3 separate regions of the Homo sapiens genome follow, and regions 1 and 3 are each linked to region 2. Evidence: fine-mapped expression QTL. A gene starts in region 2. Each other region holds a variant in brackets. All regions are shown on one strand. Distances are between the middles of the regions. Region 1 holds the start of RNF41 (ring finger protein 41). Region 2 holds the start of MYL6B (myosin light chain 6B). Region 3 overlaps PAN2 (poly(A) specific ribonuclease subunit PAN2).

Region 1 (8,162 bases), 70 kb after region 2:
GGATGCTGCTTTAATGTTTCCAAAGTGCTTTCACATAAATTATTATTATTATTTCGAGATAGAGTCTCGCTCTGTCACCTAGGCTAGAGTGCAATGGCGCGATCTTGGCTCACTGAAGCCTTGGCCTCCCGAGTTCAAGTGATTCTCCTACCTCAGCCTCCAGAGTAGCTAGGATTACAGGCACCCACCACCATGCCCGGCTAATTTTTGTATTTTTAGTAGAGACGGGGTTTCACCATGTTGGCCAGGCTGGTCTCGAACTCCTGACCTCAGGTGATCCACCCGCCTCAGCCTCCCAAAATGCTGGGATTACAAGTGTGAGCCACCGCGCCTGGCCCACATAAATTATTATTATTTTTTTGAGATAGGGTCTTGCTCTATTGCCCAGGCTGGAGTACAGTGGCATGATCATAGCTCACTACAGCCTCGCCTTCCCAGCAGGCTCCAGCAATCCTCCCACCTCAGTCTCCCAAATAGCTGGGACCACAGGCACACACCACCATGCCTGGCTAATTTTTGTATTTTTGGTAGAGATGGGGTTTTGCCATGTTGCCCAGGCTGGTCTTGAACTCCTGGGCAGGCTCCAGCAATCCTCCCACCTCAGCCTCCCGAAGTGCTGGGATTACAGGCACCAGCCACTGCGCCCACCCCCAAATCTACACATTTAAACAAGTCAAGTAACCCTGCTGTAGTTTTTCTGTTGCTTCAACTGTCAAGTAGGGAAAATGATACCTGCCTTATATATTAATATAAGGTATATATAATATATACATATTTATTATATATATATATGTTATTTTTTTTTTGAGACAAAGTGTTGCTCTGTCGCCAGGCTGGAGTACAGTGGCACGATCTTGGCTCACTGCAACCTCTGCCTCCCGGGTTCAAGCGATTCTCCTGCCTCATCCTCCCAAGTAGCTGGGACTACAGGCATGTGCCACCATGCTGAGCTAATTTTTGTATTTTTAGTAGAGACGGGGTTTCACCATGTTGGCCAGGATGGTCTCAATCTCCTGACCTTGTGATCCGCCCGCCTCGGCCTCCCAAAGTGCTGGGATTATAGGCGTGAGCCACCATGCTTGGCCTATTTTTCTTTTTTTTTTTGAGATGGAGTCTTCCTCTGTCGCTCAGGATGGAGTGCAGTGATGCAATCTCCTCAGCTCACTCCAACCTCCACTTCCCAGGTTCAAACAATTCTCCTGCCTCAGCCTCCTGAGTAGCTGGGATCACAGGCATGTGTCACCATGCCAGGCTAATTTTTATTTTATTTATTTATTTATTTATTTTTTTTTTGAGACGGAGTCTGGCTCTGTCACCCAGGCTGGAGTGCAGTGATGCGATCTCGGCTCACTACAAGTTCCGCCTCCCAGGTTCACACCATTCTCCTGCCCCAGCCTCCCAAGTAGCTGGGACTACAGGCGCCCGCCAGGACGCCCAGCTAATTTTTTTTTTTTATTTTTAGTAGAGACAGGGTTTCACCACGTTAGCCAGGATGATCTTGATCTCCTGACCTCGTGATCTGCCTGCCTCGGCCTCCCAAAGTGCTGGGATTACAGGCGTGAGCCACCGCGCCCAGCCAATTTTTATATTTTAGTAGAGACAGGGTTTCAACATGTTGGCCAGGCTGGTCTCAAACTGGCCTCATATGATCCACCACCTTTGGCCTCCCAAAGTGCTGGGATTACAGGCGTGAGCCACTGCGCCCGGCGTAATATAAGGTGTATATATGTGTGTGTGTGTATATATGTGTATATACACGCGCGCACCCCTTATACATACTGTCTGCAAATCAAATGAAATAATAAATACGAAAGGAGGCTGGACGCAGTGGCTCACACCCGTAATCCCAGCACTTTGGGAGGCCGAAGTGAGTGGATCACCTGAGTCCAAGAGTTTGAGACCAGCCTGGGCAACATAGTGAAACCTTGTCTCTACAAAAAATACAAAAATTAGCCGGGCATGATGGCGTGAGTGCCTGTAGTCCCGGCTACTGAGGAGGCTGAAGGGGGAAGGTCAACTGAGCCGAGGAGGCAGAGGTTGCAGTGAGCAGAGATCGCAGCACCGCACTCCGGCCTGGGTGACAGAGTGAGACCCTGTCTCAAAAATAAATAAATAAATAAATAAATAAATAAATAAATAAATATGAAAGGATACTGAATACTGTTATCCTCAAGTAAGATTATTTGTAGCAACAGAATACAAAATAAGGCTGGGTGCAGTGGCTCATGCCTGTAATCCTAGCACTTTGGGAAGCCGAGATGGACCAATCACCTGAGGTCAGGGTTTTGTTTTGTTTTTTTTGGCGGGGGGTGTGGGGAGACAGAGTCTCACTCTGTTGCCCAGGTTGGAGTTCAGTGGTGGAATCTCAGCTCACTGCAACCTCTGCCTCCTGGGTTCAAGCAATTCTCCTGCCTCAGCTTCCCAAGTAGCTGGGACTACAGGTGCATGCAGCCATGCCCCGGCTAATTTTTTATATTTTTAGTAGAGACGGGGTTTCACTGTGTTGCCCAGGCTGGTCTCGAACTTTTGAGCTCAGGCAATCCGCCCGCCTCGTCCTCCCAAAGTGCTAGGATTACAGGCGTGAGCCACCGCGCCCGGCTACAGTCAGAGGTTTGAGACCAGCCTGGCCAACATGGTGAAACCCCATCTCAACTAAAAATACAAAAAATTAGCCAGGCATGGTGGCAGGTACCTGTAATCCCAGCTATTCAAGAGGCTGAGGCAGGAGAATCGCTTGAACCCAGAAAGAGGTGGCACTGAGCCGAGATTGTGCCACTGCACTCCAGCGTGGGTGACAGAGTGAGACTCCGTTTCAAAAAAAAAAAAAAACAAGAATGCAAAATAAATTTAGAGTACTGAGAGTCGGAGAGGAAATGCTTGACAAAAGCTTGTTCCTTCTTTTTACTAGAAGGCAGGGCTAGCCACAGGTCGGTCGGCTTAACATTGCATCACTCACATTCCCTACCACTAGTCCACTACATTCTTATTTGGGGCAAAACTATCAGCCAACAACACTATCAGTCTCTTGCCCTATTGTCAGACTCTAAAACCCCTGTATAGAAAGGGATAACACTATCACGGGCCAGTCCCCAAGAACAGTGGCCTCAATAACAGCCCCACTTGCTATTAAATGAAATGAAGTTTCTGAACGGGGAAGCAGTCTGTCAATCCCTCAAGCAAAACGCCTTCACCCCTCCTGGCTTTCTGCTCTTCCTCTAGCCCCCTCCTCCCCACTACCCAATTTCCCAAAGTCCTGAGTTAGGGAAGGCCTTCCAGTGTGTGGTGTGTGAACCCTGCCAGAGAGCCAGGCTGCAAACCAAGCGCAGGGATGTGAAGAATGTGAGATTCCTTCATGGAGGGCTGGGAGGGGGTGAGGAGCGGGGAAGGAATGAGAGGACAAGGCTGCCAACGACAAGGCATGGGAGAGGAGCCAAGCTATGGCGCTTCGAGGGCGGGGGTTTAGGTTCCACCGCCCCTGCCCAGGCTGGCCCCCGGAATGCTCCCTTCCTCCCCTTCTGGCCCGTCAATCATTGCCCATTTAAACACCACGCTGTTCCCCCAGTTCTGCAGGTGCCGGTCCTCCAGCTAGCCCCGGCCCCCTCCCGCACTTCTCAAAGCTCCCCTATTCCAATGGACCTTCCCCAACAACCCGTT[C/T]TCCAGAGCCCCCTTCTCACCTCCCGACTCCTCGCCAGTGCTGCTCCCTTCTCACATTTTTATCTCTACCACCATCCCTCCTCCTGAACCCCAGTTATTTCAACCCCCCGCCCCAATACCCCTGGGACATCACCTCCTCCCCTCCCACACCCTCTTTTAGGTGGAAGATCGCGCAGGCGCAGTACGCACCGCCCTGGAAGCGGCCTGGAGTCTCCGCAACCTGACCCAGTCGGAGCTGAGGCCGCAGCGGCCACAGTACTGCCCTGGTGCCGGGTCCCAGCCTCTCCCGGGAAGGGAAGGGAAAGGGGAAGGAGGGGAAAGAAGACTCCTACCACTCGTCGCCGCCTCAGACGGATCCTTTGCCCCGCCCACCGCTGCTACGCAACCCGGCGGAAGCTCGTCACCAAACCCCGCCTCTTTGTTTAACTCAGCCCCTACACCAGCAGCCAGGAGCTGCCTACGAGGAGGGACGAAGGCTGGCCAGGCCTCCACTCTAGACAGGAAGTCTAGTCTAGAGTCTATATGGTCCCAGCCAGGACTATGTAGCCATTTAGGAGGGAGAACTCTATGTTCTTCCCGGCAAAAACGTGTGGGCCTGGCCGGCCACGCTTCGCTTTGGAGGGGTGCAGGTGACTTGTGTCTTAGAGCTGACGCAGATTGTTGCGAGATCATTGCGGAGAGGCAGGCCTGCAGCGTGACCTGCTGCGGGTCCGGCCCCTCTCCCTTTTCCAGAGCCCTGGTCAGCATCCCAGAGCTTCGTAACCCCTTGACTCCTGTCATGGGAATGGATATTGCAGTTAACAAGGCGGCCGCGGGGTGGGGAGTGAGGGAGTCTGACCGCAAAGCTTAGATCTGGGGTGCTCAACGGGTTGTCTGCCTCTCTCCCAGGCGCTCTCCTGCCGTATCCACGATGGCTCCCCGAACACTTGTGGAGTTCCCTGAAACACCTAAGAGGAAGGAAGGGAGAAAAAATTTCCCTCTTCCTGAGTTGGGGTTTGATTTCCTTAGCTTACAACACCGTGGTGTTGGGGATGTGGGCGGTAGAGAACGTGGGATCCAAGGGAAGTCAATGTGGAGCCTAAAGAGCTCCGTGAGCAGATAAGGGATTAATTAAGCAAACCAAGGCATTACAATCACATGACTTCCTAGACTAATCTGGTATTAAATAGTATGGTATTTATTGTGGACATTGGCTAAGCAAATGCTAATGCACATTAATACACACATACACACATATCTTTATGTAATTTGTTTATACACAACAATACAGAGCTAGCTACCTTTTGTGGACAATTTGACAGGTCCCAAAAGGAACTAAAGTTTCAGGCCTCCTTTCTGCTGTCTTCTAGCGGGACTCTGAGATAAGTAAGATAAGAGTAGTATGGCCGGGCGCGGTGGTTCATGCCTTTAATCCCAACACTTTGGGAGACCGAGGCTGGTGGATCACGAGGTCAGGAGTTTGAGCCCAGGCTGGCCAACGTGGTGAAACCCCGTCTCTACTAAAAATACAAAAAAAGTAGCCGGGCGTGGTGGCGGGCGCCTGTAATCCCAGCTACTCGGGAGGCTGAGACAGGAGAATCGCTTGAACCCGGGAGGCAGAGGTTGCATTGCAGTGAGCCGAGATCGCGCCACTGCACTCCAACCTGGGCGACAGAGCAAGACTCCTTTGCCGGGGTGGAGCGGTGGGGCGGGGCGGGGAAGAGTAGTATGGCCAGGTGCAGCGGCTCACGCCTGTAATCCTAGCACTTTGGGAGGACGAGGTGGGCGGATCCCTTGAGGTCATGAGTCCGAGACCAGCCTGGGAAACATGGCGAAACTGTCTCTACAAAAAAAATACAGAAATTAGCCGAGGGTGGTAGTGCGAACCTGTAGTACCAGCTACTACGGAGGCTGTGGTGGGAGGTTGCAGTAAGCCAAGATTGCACCACTACACTCCAGCCTGGGTTACACAGCGAGACCCTGTTTCAAAAAAAAAAAAAAAAGGGACTAACAATGTTTCTCTCTTTGTCGCAGGTTCCATTTCTTCCAAGAAGGGTGAGCCTGCCTTTTGTCTCTGGTGTAAATGCCACTTTTCCCAGAGACCTTGACCAAGCTGGGTAGTGCATTAAAGATGAGAACCCCAAATCAGGAACAAAGATAACGGTTAGAGCAATAAAAAGGGAGGAAACCGTGTGTGCCTACTGTGTGCAAGGCACTTTTTTAAATATAACTTCCGTTTTCTCGTAAGATGGAATTACATATTTTTTGTCTTTTTTTCCCTTTTTGTGGAGAATGGGGTCTCGTTATATTGCCCAGGCAGGTCTGGAACTCCTGGACTCATGCTATCCTCCAGCCTATGCCTCCCTACGTGCTGGGATTACAGGCGTGAGCCACCGCGCCTTGCGGAATTGGAATTACATATGTTTAAATAGTCGAGAAATGAAGTGAAGCATTGAGCCAGGATTCAAACTTTTGTCCGCCAGATTCCGAAGCCCTTGCTCCTTTTCCCATTGTGTCACTCTTTGGAAAGAAACGTCTTAGAACCTAAGTGCATTCTCCCTAGCCAAGTTAAGGAAAACTGGGGGCCCTGTGCGCCTTCTAGTGGTGGATTTTTCCCCCTACAGAGCCAACTATCTCCAAGGTTCCTTTAATACCTGAAATTCGCCCCCTTCGCGGCGCACGAGTCTCTGATCCCGATTGGCTGGGCAGGGCAGGCGGCGGGACGCAGGGCGCGCCCGGGCGGTGCTGATTGGCCGGAGGAGGCCAGCCGGGGGAAACTTCCGGGAATGTCCGCACTCCCGCGTTCCACGGGGCAGCATCCGGCGGCAGCGGAGCCTGTGGCTCCCCCTGCGGGCTGCTCAGCGGCGTGCACAGTCCTGCCGGCTGGCTTGGGTGGGTGGTGGGCTGCGGGTAGGGGAGGGGATGGACCGAGTCCCGGCTTGTCGGGATGAGGGTTCCGGAAGATCTGGCCAGTAAGATTCTACTCCCTGGCTGTGCACCGGGTTCCCTACCCCTGTCTACGTCGGCTCCGCCACTTCGCGGCTTGAGACTAAAAGAGCATCCCGGCAGGGGGCCTTCCAGCCCCAAAGCAGCCTGTCCAGAGACCCCCAAATTCTGATCCTGAAGTTGGAGGCCTCCGGGGATGTTCTTTTTTAATCTTTTAGAAGGGTTAGAGGGGTTGAGGCTGCCTGACCCCAGCCTAATGGGGTAGGTAGGCCTTGGGAAGTGGAGCATGGGGGCAAAGGATCCAAGCATTGAGCCTTCATCCTCTATTCCCCATCCAGTGGGGTGCCGAGGCTCAGGCAGCATGACGACGGAGACCTTTGTGAAGGATATCAAGCCTGGGCTCAAGAATCTGAACCTTATCTTCATTGTGCTGGAGACAGGTGTCTATACTGGGGTGGCGGGTTCGCGGGATGGGGGTCGGGGGCAGGAGGGGAAGAACGCTGTCTGCGTTCTTAACTTGCTATGGGGATGGCAAGGCAAGCTGCAAGACACTCCTCACTCCCAATCTCTTCGACCCTGGGACAGAAAGTTGCAGTCAGGTATAGGGTAGATAGAACTCTTGCCAGATCTAGACCTCCTGTGCGACGCGGGCCTCTTTCCACTCAGGGCCCTCTCCATGGTGCTGGCCCCTGAACTCCCACCTCCACCCTCCACCACCCCTTCCACAATCCCAACCCTTTATGCCCCAGGGATTTGGGCTTTCCCCTGTTTGTACACCTTTTCCCTCATTCCACCAATATCCACATCTCATCCTTCTGAGAGATACCACTCCATTTATTTGACCATCCTCCCACCTCGATTTATCTGTTCCGTTCAGGCCGAGTGACCAAGACAAAGGACGGGCATGAGGTTCGGACCTGCAAAGTGGCGGACAAAACAGGCAGCATCAATATCTCTGTCTGGGACGATGTTGGCAATCTGATCCAGCCTGGGGACATTATCCGGCTCACCAAAGGGTAAGTCAGCTGGTGACTTCTGGCCTTCCAAAGGCAACAACAATCAAGAGTGGGGTTAACAGTCCCTATAACACTTCTGAGTACTGAATTTTGCTTTTTTTGCCTCCCATAGGTACGCTTCAGTTTTCAAAGGTTGTCTGACACTATATACTGGCCGTGGGGGTGATCTGCAGAAGATTGGAGAGTAAGTGCTGTCTTGGGGATTGGGATGAAGAAGCACCAGGGCAAAGGGGTTTGCAAGGAGGCAGCATAGGGTGTGCAGTCCAAGCCTCATTTCTGGACTTTTTCTGTTTGTTTGTTTGTTTGTTTTGAGAAACAGTCTCTGTCGCTCAGGCTGGAGTACAGTGGCATGATCTGGGCTCACTGTAGCCTTGACCTCCCGGGGTCAGGTGATCCTCCCACATCAGCCTCCCAAGTAGCTGAGACTACAGGCGTGCTTCACCACACCCAGCTAATTTTTTTGTATTTTTTATAGGGATGGGGTTTCGCCATGTTGCCCAGGCTGGTCCCAAACTCCTGGGCTGAAGTGATCCTCCCGCTTCTGCCTCCCAAAGTGCTAGGATTACA
Region 2 (8,174 bases):
TGCGGATGCAAGTGATTCTCCTGCCTCAGCCTCCTGAGTAGCTGGGACTACAAATGCCCGCCACCACGCTGGGCTAATTTTTGTATTTTCAGTAGAGACGGCGTTTCACCATGTTGTCCAGGCTGGTCTCGAACTGACCTCAGGTGATCCGTCTGCCTCGGCGTCCCAAAGTGCTGGGATTACAGACATGAGCCATTGCACCTGGCCATGAAGATATTTATATACATCTCACATTATTTCCTTAAGTGGGGCCAGGCGCCGTGGTTTACACCTGTAATTCCAACACTATAATCCCAGCACTTTGGGAGGCAGAGGCCAGCGGATCACGAGGTCAGGAGTTCAAGACCAGCCTGGCCAACATAATGAAACCCCATCTGTACTAAAAAGACAAAAATTGCTGGGCGCGGTGGCTCACACCTGTAATCCCAGCACTTTGGGAGGCCGAGGCGGGCAGATCACGAGGTCAGGAGATTGAGACCATCCTGGCTAACACAGTGAAACCCTGTCTCTACTAAAAAATACAAAAAATTAGCTGGGTGTGGGACGCCTGTAGTCCCAGCTTCTTGGGAGGCTGAGGCAGGAGAATGGCATGAACCCGGGAGGCGGAGCTTGCAGTGAGCCAAGATTGCACCACTGCACTCCAGCCTGGGTGACAAGAGTGAGACTCCATCTCAAAAAACAAACAAACAAACAAAAACTATAACAACTAAATATAAGAAATAGCCAGGTACGGTGGCGCACGAATTTGAGGTTGCAGTGAGCTATGATTGTGCCACTGCATCCAGAGCCTGGGCAACAGAGCAAGCCCCTGTTTCTCGGGGGAGAGGAAAGGAAATGTATACAGAGGCCGGGCGCAATGGCTCATGCCTATAATTCCAGCACTTTGGGAGGCCAAGGCGGTGGCTCACCTGTCAGGAGTTCGAGACCACCCTGGCCAACATGGCAAAACCTTATCCCTACTAACAATACAAAAAAAAAATTAGCCAGGTATGGTGGCACACACCTGTAATCCCAGCTACTTGGGAGGCTGAGGCATGAGAATCACTTGAAACCAGGAGGTGGAGGTTGCAGTGAGCTAAGATGCACCACTGCACTCCAGCCTGGGCCACAGAGCAAGACTCCTGTCTCCCAAACAAAACACAAAAAGGAACGTATACTGAATAAACATGCTTGAAGAGAGCAGCTAAAGGGCCCTAATACAATCTCCTTCTGCTTCTCTTCCTCTCAACCTTTTCCACTGTGCTCTCTGGGAGCCTATTTCCACATAACACTTCCCACCCATTCCACCTTTCTTTTTTTTTTTTTTTTTTTTTTTAGGGGGGTACAGAATTTCACTCTTGTTGCCCAGGCTGGAGTGTAATGGCATGATCTCGGCTCACCACAACCTCCACCTCCCGGGTTCAAGCGAATCTCCTGCTTCAGCCTTCCTGAGTAGCTGGGATTACAGGCATACACCACCACGTCTGGCTAATTTTGTATTTTTAGTAGAGACAGGGTTTCTCCATGTTGGTCAGGCTTGTCTCGAACTCCCGACCTCAGATGATCCGCCCACCTCGGCCTCCCAAAGTGCTGGGATTACAGGCATGAGCCACGGCGCTCAGCCTTTCTCTTTTTTTTTTTAGATGGAGTCACCCTCTGTTGCCCATGCTGGAGTGCAGTGGCACAATCTCAGCTCACTGCAACCTCCGCCTCCTGGGATTCTCATGCCTCAGGCTCCCAAGTAGCTGAGATTGCAGGCGCCTGCCACCACGCCTGGCTAATTTTTGTATTTTTAGTAGAGACAGGGTTTCACCATGTTGGCCACGCTGGTCTCAAACTCCTGACCTCAGGTGATCCACCTTCCTTGGCCTCCCAAAGTGTTGGGATTACAGGAATGAGCCACTACGCCCGGCCTGCTTTTTTTAAAAAATTTTTTAAGGACAGGGTCTCACTCTGTTGCCCAGGCTGGAGGGCAGTGGCACAAACATGGCTCACTGCAGCCTTGACCTACTGGGCCCAAGTGATCCTCCCACCTCAGGCTCCTGAATAGCTGGGATCAGAGGCACACGTGCCACCATGCCTGGCTAATTTTTGAATTTTTTTTGTAGAGTTGGGGTCTCTTGCTATGTTGCCATGGCTGGTCTTGAACTTCTGGGCTCAAGTGATCTTCCCACTTTGGACTCCCAAAGTGCTGGGAATGTTCATGTCTGATTAACCCCAGTTTTGGGAATGCCTCTAAGATTTCTATTTTATCTACTGTTCTTTGTGTAAGAGCATGTACTTACCATAATTTCTCCTTAGATCAAAACAATCTTGATCATAAAGCCTGGCTTACTGAGTATTCTTGCCTTTCCCTGCAGGGTAGACTTCAATTGTCCTAGAGGTTCCTTCCCTGTGGTAAGTCCTGGGGTCAGGACTTACTCCAGGGGATGATGTCCTGGGGATCCACCATCGTGTCTCACCACTACCCAAGACACAGACATGGCTTCTGTTCATAAATTCCTATTAAATATTTCTAAGAAACTGGATTTGTCAGCCTCCTTCCTCAACCTCTTAGCTTCCTTGGACTTTGGGGGTAAGTGTGCATAGACCTGTGCACTGCGGAACAGCTCCCCAATGGCTTTCCATATTCTTTCAATCTAATGGGCCACTCTGGACAGCTGAACATGTGGAGGTTCCTGGAGGACGGCATGCCTAGGGAAGGCAAGCAAGCTTCGGACTCACCTCCCTCCCTGCCCACAAAATGCAATCTCTAAGAATATACAGGCCAGTCAAGGTAGGTCATACCTATAATCCCAGCACTTTGGGAGGCACCTGAGATGGGAAGATCACTTGAGCTCAGTTTGAGACTGGGTAACACAGTGAGACCTCATTTCTAGAAAAAAACAAAACCAAAGAAAAATAAGAATATACAAATCACATGCTAAGCAGGGAGAGGAGAGAGGAGAGACAGGCATTTCTCACAGATAATTCACATATATAATCACCCTATGCCCAGTTAAGACCATGTTTCGTCCAGTTCCTGTTATTTATGATCAAGACAGGGATGGCACAGAAAATGAAGGATAGCCTTCCCATCTCTGCAAGGGTCTTAACGTTTTTTCCCTGTACTACTTCTCTATAGAAAATGCTAGAAAGTCAGATGATGCCATAACCACTCATACTTGGCAAAATGCCAAAAATGGGAAAAGGAAAGAAAAAAAATTACAAGAGCCATATTTTGAAATCAATGTCTGCAAAAGTAATGAAAGCCACACAAAGGCATCTATAATGTGGCCCTTTCCCAGTCTTATAACCACTTAAAAATGTATTCCTTCTTCCTCTCCGTCTCTTCACAACACCTATTGATCCTTACTTCATTGATGTAAAATGGGGAAAATATCAGCGACCTCATACCTTGGGAAGATTAAAGGAAAGTTATTTAACAAAAACTTATACAGCACTTATGCTGTGCCAGGCCTATTCTATTTTACACTTTTTTTTTTTTTTGAGTTGGAGTCTCACTCTGTCACCCAGGCTGGAGTGCAGTGGTGCGATCTCGGCTCACTGCAACCTGCCGGGTTCAAGTGATTCTCCGACCTCAGCCTCCCAAGTAACTGAGATTACAGGCGCCCGCCACCAGGCCCAGCTATTTTTTTTTTTTTTTTTTTTTTTTTTTTTTTTTGTATTTTTAGTAGTGACAGGGTTTCACCATGTTGGCCAGGCTGGTCTCGAACTCCTGACCTCAGGTGACCCACCTGCCTCGCCTCCCAAAGTGCTGGGAGGTGTGAGCCACCAAGCCCGGCCCTATTTTACCAATAATAACACTTCGAATCCTCCGAAGAGCCCTATGAGGTAGGTACCATTATCATTATTTTACAGATGAGGAACTGAGGCCCAGGAGAGATAACTAAACCTGCTGAGGGTCACTAACTAGGACCTGGTAGAACCAGGATTTAAATCTGAGTAGGCTGTCTGAACCCCATCCACTTGAGCACCCTCTGAGATAATTTAGCCCCTTCACCGGTACGAGATCTATGGCGGCCTCCAGAAATGGTTGCTAACTTACTATTATCGTTATTTCTGTCGTACAATTCATTTCTACCTTTCCAATAAACTTTCCCCAACCAGTGAACCTCACTTACTGCCCATAAAGTTCACCTGTGCCTCACCACCCTGCCATCGCCCGAGTTTTCTGCTCTGATCTAATCCTCACACGCCTGTGCAGCACCAGCTTCCAACACCAGGTGCACCGCCAGGGTATTTACTGATCCAGTGAGTGAAGGTGGGCCCGGCCGGGCTGGTTCCCATCCTCTGATCAACGCCTAGGGGAACCAGTGAACTCCAATGCTGACCATAAGAGTTTCAGAAAGTAGGGCTGGAAAGCCCAGCCCTCCGCTCAGAGACCTGTGAAGATCGAGGAGGATGGCGCATATGCTGCCGCAGGATGGAAACCTCGATCAGAGAAGGCTGGGGCAGGTGACTGGGCTTAATTGCAAATTTTAACATTTACTTCAGCAACCAGCTCATTAAAAACAAACTACTCTGAGGCCTCTTTTTTTTCTACCAAACCGCGAGAGGAAGCAAAAGAGAGTGCAGCGGTTCTCCCCGGGGCCGTTAAGTGCTTCCAGCTATCTGACCTCCACGCTGCCTGCTGCAGCCTCAATCTTTCCCCAGGTTCTGAGTTCTTTCAGCAGTAGGTCCAGGAAAACAGCCGCCCCGCCCCCTCCACCTCCCGAGACTAGGAGCCCGCCAGGGTTAAGTAGGAGGGATACCCTAGGGGCCCCGCAGGGTTTTTAGGGTTGGGGTGGATTGGAAATTGTTCATTGCCTTTCAGTTCCGGGACATAAAGCGCGCTGGAAGGACACTGAGTCACCAACCACCGCCATGGGCCGGAAGCCACCGCCCTCGCGTCAACTGCAATCTAGAGCGCGGCGCATCCCGTGAGCCCGCGGGGAACTACGACTCCCGGCATGCTCCGCGGCCACCGGAATTAACCCTTCAGGGCTGGGGGCCGCGCTATGCCCCGCCCCCTCCCCAGCCCCAGACACGGACCCCGCAGGGTGAGTTTTTGGGGGCTGAGGAGGGCCATTTTCTTTAAGATTTAGTGGGGGTGCGTGAGTGTGTGTGTGTGTGTGTGTGTCGTGTGTGTGTGATGTATTTTGTAAAAATGGGACAATTTGCAGTCATGAGATTCAGACGCTGTTTTGCGAATGGGAGACCCAGCATCAACCCCGGGGCCTAAGTGGAATCACTGCTATCTTCCTCAGAATGCTACCTAAATCCTTTCCTAATTTACCCCAGAACAAAAGTAGCCTGCAATCCCTCCCCACTCCCAAACGCCCCCCAACTTGGACTCTCTCCCAGCGCCCCTGGCAAGGTTTGTGACCTGGCCCCTGAGTCAGGATTTTTATTATACCCCTGGTTGTGGGGTGAATACTCATGGAGCCATAGGAGCGCCCACATCCTCTTGGATTAGGGAATTTAAGCCGTCTCCCAGAGCCTGCCCTTCTCCTCAGGTGCCACCAAAGGGTCCCCACAGGTTCAGCAAGCACCCTACCTTTTGTTTGTCTTGAATGACCGTGGGCTTGTGGAAGGTTTCTTCCATGGAAGAATGGGTAGCAGATGTTAAACCTGATCTTTGCCCCCACTCCTGCCCCTAAAACAACACTGGGCACAGGAGACAATGAGGGATGTCATACTCCTGTTTTTATGACTATTCTTCCTTTATACTGTGAATAGTTCCAGTTCTTGGCTGGGTGGGGGCTCAGGAACTACAAGTATTAGGGATCATTAGACTCTAAGGTTAACTACCCCTGCTCTTTACAAAGCCATGGTCAGAAGGGAGTGGAGGGGCTGGGCAGATGGGCTTCTTGTTTTTGTCATTGCTCCCAGACCACACTTTAACTTGTTCCAGTTCACACAAGCCTCCCTGGCTGCTACCCCTCACCCCACCCTTCAAGAAGACTAAAGCTGCTGGATCACCTGCTTTGCCTCACCACCCCCATCTCAGTGCCACTGGCAAGCATCCTATCCTCACCCTGGAGGTTAACTACCTCATTCTGGGCAGTCTCTGGCTTCCTCCCCTACCCCTAAAGGAAACATTGTTCTTTTCTGGTCAGCCTTTGGGGATAAGGGGACAGAGGGAAGAAGACCTTGGGGCAGGAGTCCTGAACCATAGGAGGCCAGGGGAGTGAGGGCAGGCGGTTATATCTCTCCTCTACCTCATCTTTGCCACAGCCAACTGGCTCCCTGCCCCTGCCCCCGCCCCTTGACATCCCAGACTCCCTGGCTATTTAAACAGAGATGGGTGCCCCCATCCGCACACTGTCCTTTGGCCACCGGACATCATGCCTCCCAAGAAGGATGTTCCCGTGAAGAAACCAGCAGGGCCCTCCATCTCCAAACCTGCTGCTAAGCCAGCAGCAGCAGGGGCTCCTCCAGCCAAGACCAAAGCTGAGCCAGCTGTCCCCCAGGCCCCTCAGAAAACCCAGGAGCCTCCAGTCGATCTCTCCAAAGTGGTGGTGAGTCTCTGGAAAGTGAAGATAGAATTGGAGGGGGTGGTTTGAGGGTGGGATACAGCCTAGGGGATTAGGGGGTATCTAGAAGGTAGGGAATCAGTGAGCCCTGGAATGAGATTGGGGCTTTCCCTTAGTCCCCCATTTGGAAGCATCCAGTCTTATGACTCTGCTGTTGTCTTTGCTGTTCTCTCCCTCTAACCTATAATCATGTGTGTACAGCACATACACACTCACTTACCCCCTGCTGGAGGCAGGGACTCTTAGATGGGGAACATCTGGGTTCTGAGAACAGTTTCAAGGTGAAGGGAAGAGAGCTGTTGCCTGCCCCTGGCTGGTGGTTCAATTCAAAAGGCCTGCAGCTCTGAACTCCAGGAGGGGAGGCTGAAGAGGACAGACTTGTTAGACAATCACAGCTGGGGGCCAGGGGTAAATTTAGCCTTTGTTCAGCCCCCAGTTATGTGTGGGATGCAGGGCTCAGGGCAATGGAGGGAGGGAAACAGGTGGCATGGGATTAACCCTGTTCCCAGGAAACCCTCCCCACTGTAATTCCTCTTCTTGGGATTCTCCCAAGGCCCAGAGCTGGGAATGGGACTGAGGTGGCTGGGCTTCCAGCCTGGTCCCTTTGGGCCCCTCCTCAGAAGTGGCTGCCAGTTGGTTGGGAGGAGTGCGGGAGAGGGATTGAATAAACTCTCATCTCTCCCCACCTGCTTTTTTCTTCCACAGATCGAGTTTAACAAGGACCAGCTGGAGGGTGAGGAGAAGCTCATCTAAGGCCACTGTCCCATCCCCAATCCCCTGGTCAGATTCTCTTTCTATTCCCCTAACCCCAGTCCTGACCTTGAAACCTCCCATACTAGTCCTCTTTTCCTCCCTTGTTCTGTTCACATAGTTTCTGAAATTCCCTTCTGTCTGGGGGTGATGGGAACCCTAGTCAGTGTCTACACTGACCCTTCCTTATACTTTAGAGTTCAAGGAGGCCTTCGAGCTGTTTGACCGAGTGGGGGATGGCAAGATCCTGTACAGCCAGTGTGGGGACGTGATGAGGGCCCTGGGCCAGAACCCCACCAACGCCGAGGTGCTCAAGGTCCTGGGGAACCCCAAGAGTGATGGTGAGGGGACCCTTGGGAACAATTTGGGTTTTTAGTTTTCAAAAGTTGGATGTTGGTAACAAAAAGAATGAGGTGGATCTCAGGACTTCAAAAACTGTCAAACACAGAAGCAGGAAAATATCCTAAATGCTGAATAGGATGAAAGCATTGTGGTAGGGTTGGGAGCTGGGTCCTATGTAATACTACAATGACCTCTCCTTTACCTCTCTCCAACCTCCAGAGCTGAAGTCGCGGCGTGTGGACTTTGAGACTTTCCTGCCCATGCTCCAGGCAGTGGCCAAGAACCGAGGCCAAGGCACATATGAGGACTACTTGGAGGGGTTTCGTGTGTTTGACAAGGAGGGGAACGGCAAAGTCATGGGAGCAGAGCTCAGACATGTTCTCACCACCCTTGGTGAGGCAGGCAAGGGGGACCAGAACTCCTTTAGAGTGGAGAGGGGGATGGGGTGGGCCAGAAAGACTGGACAGATAAGCAGAGCTAGCAGGAGGCTTACTGTCCTGCAGGTTGTCGGCAGGAGACTGAGAAGGTCAGAGCTATGGGGGTAGAATCTGAAGGACTCGCTCTTCCAGAGGCTAAAGTGCCATC
Region 3 (8,174 bases), 170 kb after region 2:
AGTCCCAGCTACTCGGGAGGCTGAGGCAGGAGAACTGCTTGAACCCGGGAGGTGGAGGTCGCAGTGAGCCAAAATTGTGCCATTGCACTCCAGCCTGGGTGACAAGAGTGAAACTCTGTCCAAAAAAAAAAAAAAAAGCAGTCTCATCCTGTTGCCCAGGCTGGAGTACACTGGTGCAATCATGGCTCACTCACTGCAGCCTTGACCTCCTGGGCTCAAGTGATCCTCCCGCCTCAGCTTCTCCAATAGCTGGGACCACAAGTATATGCCACCACACTCAGCTAAATTTTTTTTTTTTTTTTTGAGACAGGGTTTCACTCTCGTCACCCAGGCTGGAGTGCAATGATGCAATCTTGACTCACTGAAATCTCTGACTCCCAGGCTGAAGTGATTCTCCTGCCTCAGCCTCCCAAGTAGCTGGGACAACAGGAGCACATCACCATACCCAGCTACTTTTTGTATTTTTTGTAGAGACAGGGTTTCACCATGTTGCCCAAACTGGTTTTGAACTCTTGAGCTCAAGTGATCTGCCCGCCTCAGCCTCCCAAAATGCTGGGATTACAGGCCATAAGCCACTGTGCCTGGCCTATACTAGGCTAATTAAAAAAAAAAAAAAAATTTTTTTAGGCTGGGTGTAGTTGCTCACGCCTGTAATCCCAGCACTTTGGGAGGCTGAGGCGGGCAGATCATGAGGTCAGGAGTTCGAGGCCAGCCTGACCAACATGGTGAAACCCTGTCTCTACTAAAAATACAAAAAAATTAGCCGGGTGTGGTGGTGGGCGTCTGTAATCCCAGCTACTCAGGAGGCTGAGGCAGGAGAATCGCTTGAACCCAGGAGGCAGAGGTTGCAGTGAGCCGAGATTGCGCAATTGCACTCCAGCCTGGGTGACAGAGCAAGACTGCATCTCAAAAAAAAAAAAAAAATTTTTTTTCAAAGAGATGGGATCTTGCTATGTTGCTCAGGCTGGATTTCGCACTTCTAAATTTAAGGTCTGATGAGCAGGAATCTCTTTAGTATCTCCAGAAATATTAACACTGGTTACCAATCCTAAGTACTTGCAAGCAATGTCCCAGATCTCACCCTGAAGCCCAATCTAAACTGTCCACACACTTGGGTCTACTATGTAGCACTTACTGTTCAGGTTGTATCTGGAATTGAGATTCCGTTTGACATAATAAAGGATTGCAGGTACTTTCCAATTCATGTCAAACTGCACAGCTTCATGCTATAGAAGAGAAAAAGCACTTATGGCTAATGTATATCACCCTTTTCCTTTTCCCCCACTTCAGACGGAGGCCAGGACTCAGGTGCTAGTTTTTGTTTTTTTTCAGGTGCTATTTTTAAGTGCTAATGGTTTTTATTCCTGAGGATTCCTTCCTCCCTCCCTGTTGAATCTGCCTGGCATTCTATAGAGCCCTAAAGATAAGGATGCTAGGAAAAGGGGAAATGAAAGAAGAAACAGAACATGTTGCAACTAACCTTATCAATAGGTTCAATAAGAAAGTCATTGAACAGATACCACTGCTGGTGAGTAACGCCCTATGGAAATACAAAGAAAGCCTGTGGCGATACAAATTGATGGCTGGACCACTCTGTCTCAGACTCAAGGACAGATCTGGGACTCACTGTGGCCATCCCAGGAGTGTTCCTGCCCTCTACAACCTCACTCACCTCCTTGCGCTGGTGGTAGGTCTCTCCAACTTTGATGTGAGCCACCAGGCTGCCCCCTGTGCGTGAGTCCAGGATGTGTACCACAGTAGCCATCAGGTCATACACATAGACACCATGCTCCTCCTCTGCCCTGGCTGGGCCCCACTGTGAGGGGGGTACCCAGGCTGCTAAGCTAAGTTTAAGGATGGGGAAGGGAGGGGAATGGGGACAGAGGACAGGGAGTTGGGGGTATGGGGGATGGGGGACCAGGGTGGGTTATCTCCATCCTAGCCCATCTAGGACCCCAACACTGAACTGAGTGACTATGGAAAATCCCCTAACAGGTAAATACTAGGCCTTATTCTCTTCCTTTTCCCTCTGCTAAGTTTCACCTTCCCCTGCCCTCCTTTACCTTCTGCCCCACCTTCTCTCCCTTATTCCCTTTCCTCTTCCCGGTTTTTCAACAACCTGCATCTCATCCCCATCAGTCCAATTGCAAACATCCAGCCCTTTGTTTTTGGTCATCTTCATGCGAATGGAGAAAGGAAGCCAGACGTTCTTCAACTCCTCAATGGAGGGACACACCAGCACACCCTCTGGACTCCCTAGTTCCTTCCTATCAGGTCAGAAGAATTGGAAATTTGTTCCGAAAGAGGTCTTGATAAGAGGAACCACTGGGCAATTCAATCCTTTGACAACTCCCAAGACAGCACCTACCAATCAGCCAAAGCAAATTCCTTGTTCTTGGAGATTTCCCCACCGTGTTTCTTTACTGCCATCTTGAAGGCAACCTGAACACAGAAGAAAAACATCCAGTTCTTCAGGAATGTAATCATATATGGAGGTCAGAAGGGGGATAAAATGAAAAATTATTCCGGAAGCCTTGTTTCTAGTCTGAGTCCTTACCTCAGCCTGCATTCTCCAGAAATCAGCCTCTTTTGAGCTGTTCACCTCACAATTGATGACAAGAATATCTGGCAGATGGCGGATGTTGCGGGTCTGAATCTGAGAGGAAGAAACAAACAAGGAATGGCAGGGAATGTACAGGAAAAGGAGTCTGGACAGGGACCTGGGTCTGCGTCTTCAAACTGGGATTCCTCACTCCACCAGAGATCCCTGGATGGCAGTGCTGACAGAGCCAGCCCCACATGGGATAGTGGCTGAATCTCCATGGCAGGACCAGGACTCTAGTCCAGTCCAACAGTCCACTCACCGTGGGCTGGTACTTTTCACAGGTGTCACACCAGGCCTGTGTATTCTGGTCCAGGCAGATGCTTCGCTTCAGCACCTGAGCAAAGTCATAGTTCTTCCCAGTTTTATCTGAGGGAAAATTAGATGCTATACTCCTGGTTCTCCCCTCTACCCACAGTTAGTCCCCAACACCCTCTCCCTGATATTACAGGACATTTTGGGGAGCCTTCCCAACTGAGCTGAAGGGTATACCACTTTTGCTACCATCAGGGTAGGAGAGTGTGAAAAGCAGAGTGGATGAGGCTCGCACGGTCTCACTGCCACAGCGGCAGAGGCTGCAGTTCTCCATCTCACAGCTGAAGAGCTGCCCAATAACAGAGTCCCCCGATGAGCAAAAGCTGCTAAGAGTGGAGAGGATGATATATGCACATTGAGGAAGTTAGGAGACCTTTTAAATCACAGAGGGGCCTGTCATGATGGCTTTAACTATTTCTATCCTGATTTCATACCTGCCTCCAGCACCTCGATAAGCCTGTGGTATTTCCAGCTCCTGCATATCTTGATGCAGTTGAGTGAGAATGAAGCGATTCCACCTCTGAATGAGCCTGGCCAGATTGCCCTTGCCTGAGGCCTCATCTGAGTCAGCCAGGATTAGACCGAGGGCTGAGGCCTCAGGAATAGTACGGAATGCCCGAAGAAAATTATTGCCCTGGAAATGTGTTGGTGGAAAGGGGTTATTTTGTCTTTTGTGTCCACCTTCCTTCCCCTTCCATTTTAAGTGTCTCCAAGTACTGACCTGGCAAGGGTCACCACGAGAGAGGTCCAACATGTGAAACAGGAAGCCCAGCTCACATGCCAGACAGAACTCCTTCTGGCAAAGGTGGTTTTGAATTAGACAGCGTACAGGCTCCAGGAAATAGAGCACCTGGAGGGAAAAGCAGAAGAACTGATGTAGGAAACTGGCCTGGGGGTGAGGAGAAATATGGAGGTTAAGTGAGCTGGTGGAGAAAATGTCCCAGAAGCAGGAGTCCACCGAAGCAGTGAGTCCACCAAACCGGTGGAGCTCAGAGGAGACTTGAAAGTTGTAGAGGCAAGAAAGAATTGTAGAGGAGACCATGGTAAAGAGAACACGGCTGAGGAGACCTGGAAAGAGCAGGGTCGAGAGCCATAGGGAAGAAGAAAAGCAGCAGGCACGTTCAAGTTACAGGAATACCCAACCCTTACCTGGATCATGCAGTTACAGTAGGCGTTGGGAATGTGGGGCTCTAATCCAGCAAACAAGGTCTTATTGTAGTGTTTGAAGTCAAAGTCCTCCAGCCCTAGCTTGGAATATTTGATGGTCACCTAAGGTAGAAATTGTCTGAGCAAGACAAGGATATTCTCAGAGTCCCCAAATCTTTCCAGTAGCCACAGCCTTTCCTAGAGCCTTCCTCCTGGGTCCAGGGTGGTAGTTGAAGGCCTCCTGACTGAGTCCTTCAATCCTTTCTCATATGACTTCCTTCCCAGGGTACCTTTCCCCACATCCCACAGGCCCTGATGTCCCCCAGCACCTTGCGGTATTTCTTAGAAACCATGTGGAGATGTGGTTCCTCTTCTCGTCCTACTGGTGACTCAGTGACCTGGCTGAAGCTGTCAAATTCACTGTCTGACTCCTTGAGTCTGTAGGGTATCTAGGGATTTTAGGAAGAGGTAACCTTGTTGGATGTCTTGTCATCTTTGGCTTCACACTCATTTATCCCAACATTGAAACAGCCACCAAGTCCTGAACCTTCTATATTCATAGCACTCTCAGCATCCGCTGCTTCCTTTCTATTTCCACTGCCATCACTCTGCTTCAGCACAGATGGACAACTGTGATGGCGTCCACACTGGTCTCCCTATGTTCACTCTGTCCAGCACACCACTACCAAATTAACCCTTGCAGAATGCTGCTTTCTGTGTATTACTTCCTCTATTATAGACTGGTGTTCAAAGCTTCGCAATCTGGCCACTTCTAATTTTAATCGCTCACTACATCCCAATACCAACAGCTACTCCGGCCAGACTGGTATACTCAT[G/A]TAGTCCCCCTCAGATATGTGTTTTGCATTTATGCCTCTTGAGATCTTTACTAACACTCTTCTCTCATCTTGGATATTCTCCTCTGTTACTATCTACTTAACTGATATCCCACCTTTCCAGCTTAATACCCAGCTCTTTCATTACACCTTCCTTGGTCACTTTAGCCTGGAATAACATTTTTCCTCCAAACAGCTCTGGCACTAAATGCTTATGACATTCCTTCAGCATTTAACAACAGAACGTAATTTCTGATATGGCTATGTCTTCTCTTCACCAACCAAATACTAAACTTCCTAACAGCAAGGACCCTAGCTTCTCTATCTTTGAATCCTCCCTAACACCTAGCATAGTTCCATCAATTTGGTTGGTTACCAACAGGATCTAAAAACAAAAGAAAGACTAGTAAAGGAAAAAGATAGGAGAAACTTCAGTGGGCCGGGGTCGGGGCTGACCCTCCACTCTGAACACACCTGATTGCGCAGCCTGGTGCGGGGATTGGGCGCATAGCCAATGAAGCCCACCTTCTTCATGGTGCGCAGAATCTCTGCATCCACGGGTGGTGCTCGCCTACAATCCAGCATAGTTCTAGGACTTAAAGAGTTGTGGTGTACACTGGTCCACTCCCCAATCCCCAAGGGTCCAGAGAAAAAGAAAATACTGAAGGTAGACAAAAATCAGGAAAGTAGTAGAATAACAACAGGGCTAGCAGAGAATTCTGGTATCTTGGCCCTTTCCCTGTCCCTCCCGCCTTTTGGCCCAGAGGTAGGGTACAACCTGGGAGCTGGAGCAGAGTTGGCAGCAGGCCAATCAGAGAGAAGTGTGTCAGTGGTGAGTGGGACAGGGATGAGGGAAAGAGGCAGCAGGTCCTGGCTCCAGTCCAGAGGAGGCAGTGAGTCCACGAGACACGGCAAAGCAAACTCAGTCTCACGGGAGTAGGGGTTGAAGGAAGGCTCCGGGGAATCAGTCCAGAGGTGCACACAGCCCTCAGAATCCCCAAAGGCCAGAGCCTGCTTGCTGGCTGACACATCAAATGTCATTAGCAGAGGCCCCACAGGATTCACATGAAAGATATCGGCTGGGTTGGCCAGGCCTGTGGGTTCACAGAATTGGCACTGCCCTACAAAGGAGGAAGAAACCCACTGAGCCCTAGAAAGTGAAAGGGAGCCATATTCTTATGCCCTTCCTATCCTCTTCCCCTGATTTCAGGACAAGATGGGCCCCAAATCCATGCCTAGAGACAGAATGCCACTTCGTGCCTTCCATAAACCACAGATGGTTCGCTACTCAGCAAAGAGCAATTCTACAGTTATTTTGCCTACTTTATCTTTACCTTTTTCCATGTTCCTCATATTCAAGAAAATAAAAGCTCTAATCTCTGGCCAAACCCAAGTAAAACCTTGGGACCCTGATGAAAGGTTACTTCTTTCCCCAACAAAGAGGTTTCAGGATGAGTACTCCTTCGGGTTCTAGCTCTCCTTTGCTCATCGATCCCTCCTACCCAATCCCATATGCCCTTCATACCTGACTGAGAGATGATAGCAAGACGAGAAGTATATGTAGGAATGAAGCGCAAGAAGGCAGGATCCACATGTACTTGAAGTGGTGTGATGGCACGCATCATGCGCAAATCATACACCTTGAGGAAACGGTCGCAGGCCAGGCCAGTGAGGCGGCTGGAGAAGCCACAGGCAGCTAGCAGGTTGCCATGCACATCAAAGTCTGACAGACTTCCTGAGAAGGCATCAAACTCATGTTCCACCTTAAAAGTACGGAGGTCTCTCAGGGAAACCTAGAAAAAAAAAATTCAGTTATCTGCAAATTCTGTTATCAGGAAAAATACCTGCCACCTACCTAACCCAGTGGGGTCCCTACCAAAGGAACTAGGGCTTTAGGACAGGGAAAGTTAAAGCACAGAAAAGGCAAACAGAGAAGCCCAGAGCCAGAAGGGGCTTCAGGGAGACTTCATTATCATAGAAAACATCAAGCTGCAAAATAATCTCATAGTAGAACATCACTGAGTAGGAAGTGAATTCACTCCACTCATCCCTCACCTCCAATCCAACTACACCCCAGAGTTAAGGGAAAGCAGATCGCAATCAGGTATCTAGTGAAACAGGGCCCTGCAGTGGGAGGAGAAATGGAACTTGGCCACCTTGCCAGACGTGTGGCCGCAGAAGAAGAAGCGATTTGTCTGTCTCATGATGGTGACTCCAGGCGTCTCTACTGCATACTGGAGAGGGAAGCAGGAAAAACCAGTGAGAAGAATGATTTTTCCCACAGACCAAGGGAACAGAAAGGTCACACCCACATCTCAGGCACATTACCAGCCCAAGCATACCCTGCCCCCGCAACAACCTCAGACCCCACATAGGTCTTTCTTGCCCCAAGCTTGTACCTTCTGAGTCTCCTGGACAGTGTTAAGATCAATCTCTATTATGTGATTCTGCAGCCCACCAACGAGTAGAGTGCTGCTGTCAGTCAGTAGGAGACTGTGCATATCCTCATTCTCATCCAGCCTGGTGGGGAGAGGAAAGGCTAAGGGGCCCAGGCCTTACAAGCTGCCAATCCCTTAGCCTTCCCACCCTATGAGGCATCCTCGTTCCTAGTCCAGAGCTGAGAAGCCACTTACAGGTAATCAAATATAATGAGGCCCCCACGGGCCATATACTTGAGGTTGTTCTTGGTGAGAAAAAGGATACCATTCTCCAGGCTCTGGATCTGCCGAATATCATCACTGCCATTGACTTGAAAGGATGAGTAGCGCTCCAAGGCTGGGCCAAAAAATGAAGTGGCATGGCCCTATAGAGGACAAAGACAACAGAGACACTTAGAGTGGAGGGGCAAGGGCCACCCTACGGCCAGGTCAGGGACTGAACATGGCTCAGCTTGGATCCTTTCTTGCTTGGCCTTTGTGACTAGGAGCAACTGGGGCAAAAGGCTAGGAACCAGTCAATCTTAGTGATAAAGACACTGATAATACTGTCTTATGTTTGTTTAATGTGTTACACAGCATTTTGGTAAACTCTACCTCATTTTGTCCTCACAATGACCCTGCTGAATAGGTAATGGCTCACTTGGTTAGAACAGTATATAGAAGGTCAGGGACATGGTCCAATTCTCTACTGGCCAGCTGGCTTTCTTATGTTTCACATCTGGGAGGATGTGCATAAGGTTATATGCAAATACTATATCATTTTCTATAACGGATTTAGGCATCCTTGAATTTTGGTATCTGGTATCTTTAGATCTTGGAACCAATCCCACATGGATACCA

Evidence for each region.
Region 1: its variant is fine-mapped to the expression of MYL6B in blood mononuclear cells (TOPMed, PIP above 0.99). The same link has a PIP of 0.9 or more in adrenal gland, gastroesophageal junction, lung, thyroid, tibial nerve and whole blood.
Region 3: its variant is fine-mapped to the expression of MYL6B in whole blood (TOPMed, PIP above 0.99).

What each region holds. Positions count from the first base shown.
Region 1 is chr12:56,217,917-56,226,078 of GRCh38, forward strand. RNF41 (ring finger protein 41) reads right to left here and starts at 4,006. Exons shown (of 7, transcript NM_005785.4): 1 at 3,844-4,006. It overlaps NABP2 (nucleic acid binding protein 2), which reads left to right and starts at 6,426. Exons shown (of 7, transcript NM_024068.4): 1 at 6,426-6,525; 2 at 6,918-7,019; 3 at 7,457-7,595; 4 at 7,708-7,779. The coding sequence starts at 6,941. RefSeq lists enhancers at 3,928-3,977, 3,964-4,898, 4,198-4,417, 4,899-5,832, 5,249-5,543 and a silencer at 6,275-6,514. The variant C/T (reference allele first, on the strand shown) is at 3,655.
Region 2 is chr12:56,147,611-56,155,784 of GRCh38, forward strand. MYL6B (myosin light chain 6B) reads left to right here and starts at 4,977. Exons shown (of 8, transcript NM_002475.5): 1 at 4,977-5,021; 2 at 6,263-6,482; 3 at 7,203-7,230; 4 at 7,445-7,588; 5 at 7,809-7,982. The coding sequence starts at 6,309. It overlaps LOC124902942, which reads left to right and starts at 4,217. Exons shown (of 3, transcript XM_047429954.1): 1 at 4,217-4,437; 2 at 4,796-5,021; 3 at 6,199-6,287. The coding sequence starts at 4,384. The coding sequence ends at 6,233. MYL6B-AS1 (MYL6B antisense RNA 1) reads right to left here. Exons shown (of 3, transcript NR_186043.1): 3 at 3,186-3,375. LOC124902943 (a long non-coding RNA gene) reads right to left here and starts at 6,263. Exons shown (of 2, transcript XR_007063328.1): 1 at 5,519-6,263. RefSeq lists an enhancer at 4,051-4,130.
Region 3 is chr12:56,320,943-56,329,116 of GRCh38, forward strand. It overlaps PAN2 (poly(A) specific ribonuclease subunit PAN2), which reads right to left. Exons shown (of 26, transcript NM_014871.6): 3 at 7,530-7,699; 4 at 7,296-7,416; 5 at 7,053-7,130; 6 at 6,422-6,689; 7 at 5,675-6,017; 8 at 5,371-5,467; 9 at 4,393-4,512; 10 at 4,067-4,186; 11 at 3,639-3,767; 12 at 3,352-3,551; 13 at 3,107-3,243; 14 at 2,865-2,971; 15 at 2,558-2,656; 16 at 2,369-2,442; 4 more. Among named protein-coding and RNA genes, the nearest start is that of PAN2, 9.0 kb to the right of the region's middle. RefSeq lists a silencer at 269-469. The variant G/A (reference allele first, on the strand shown) is at 4,900.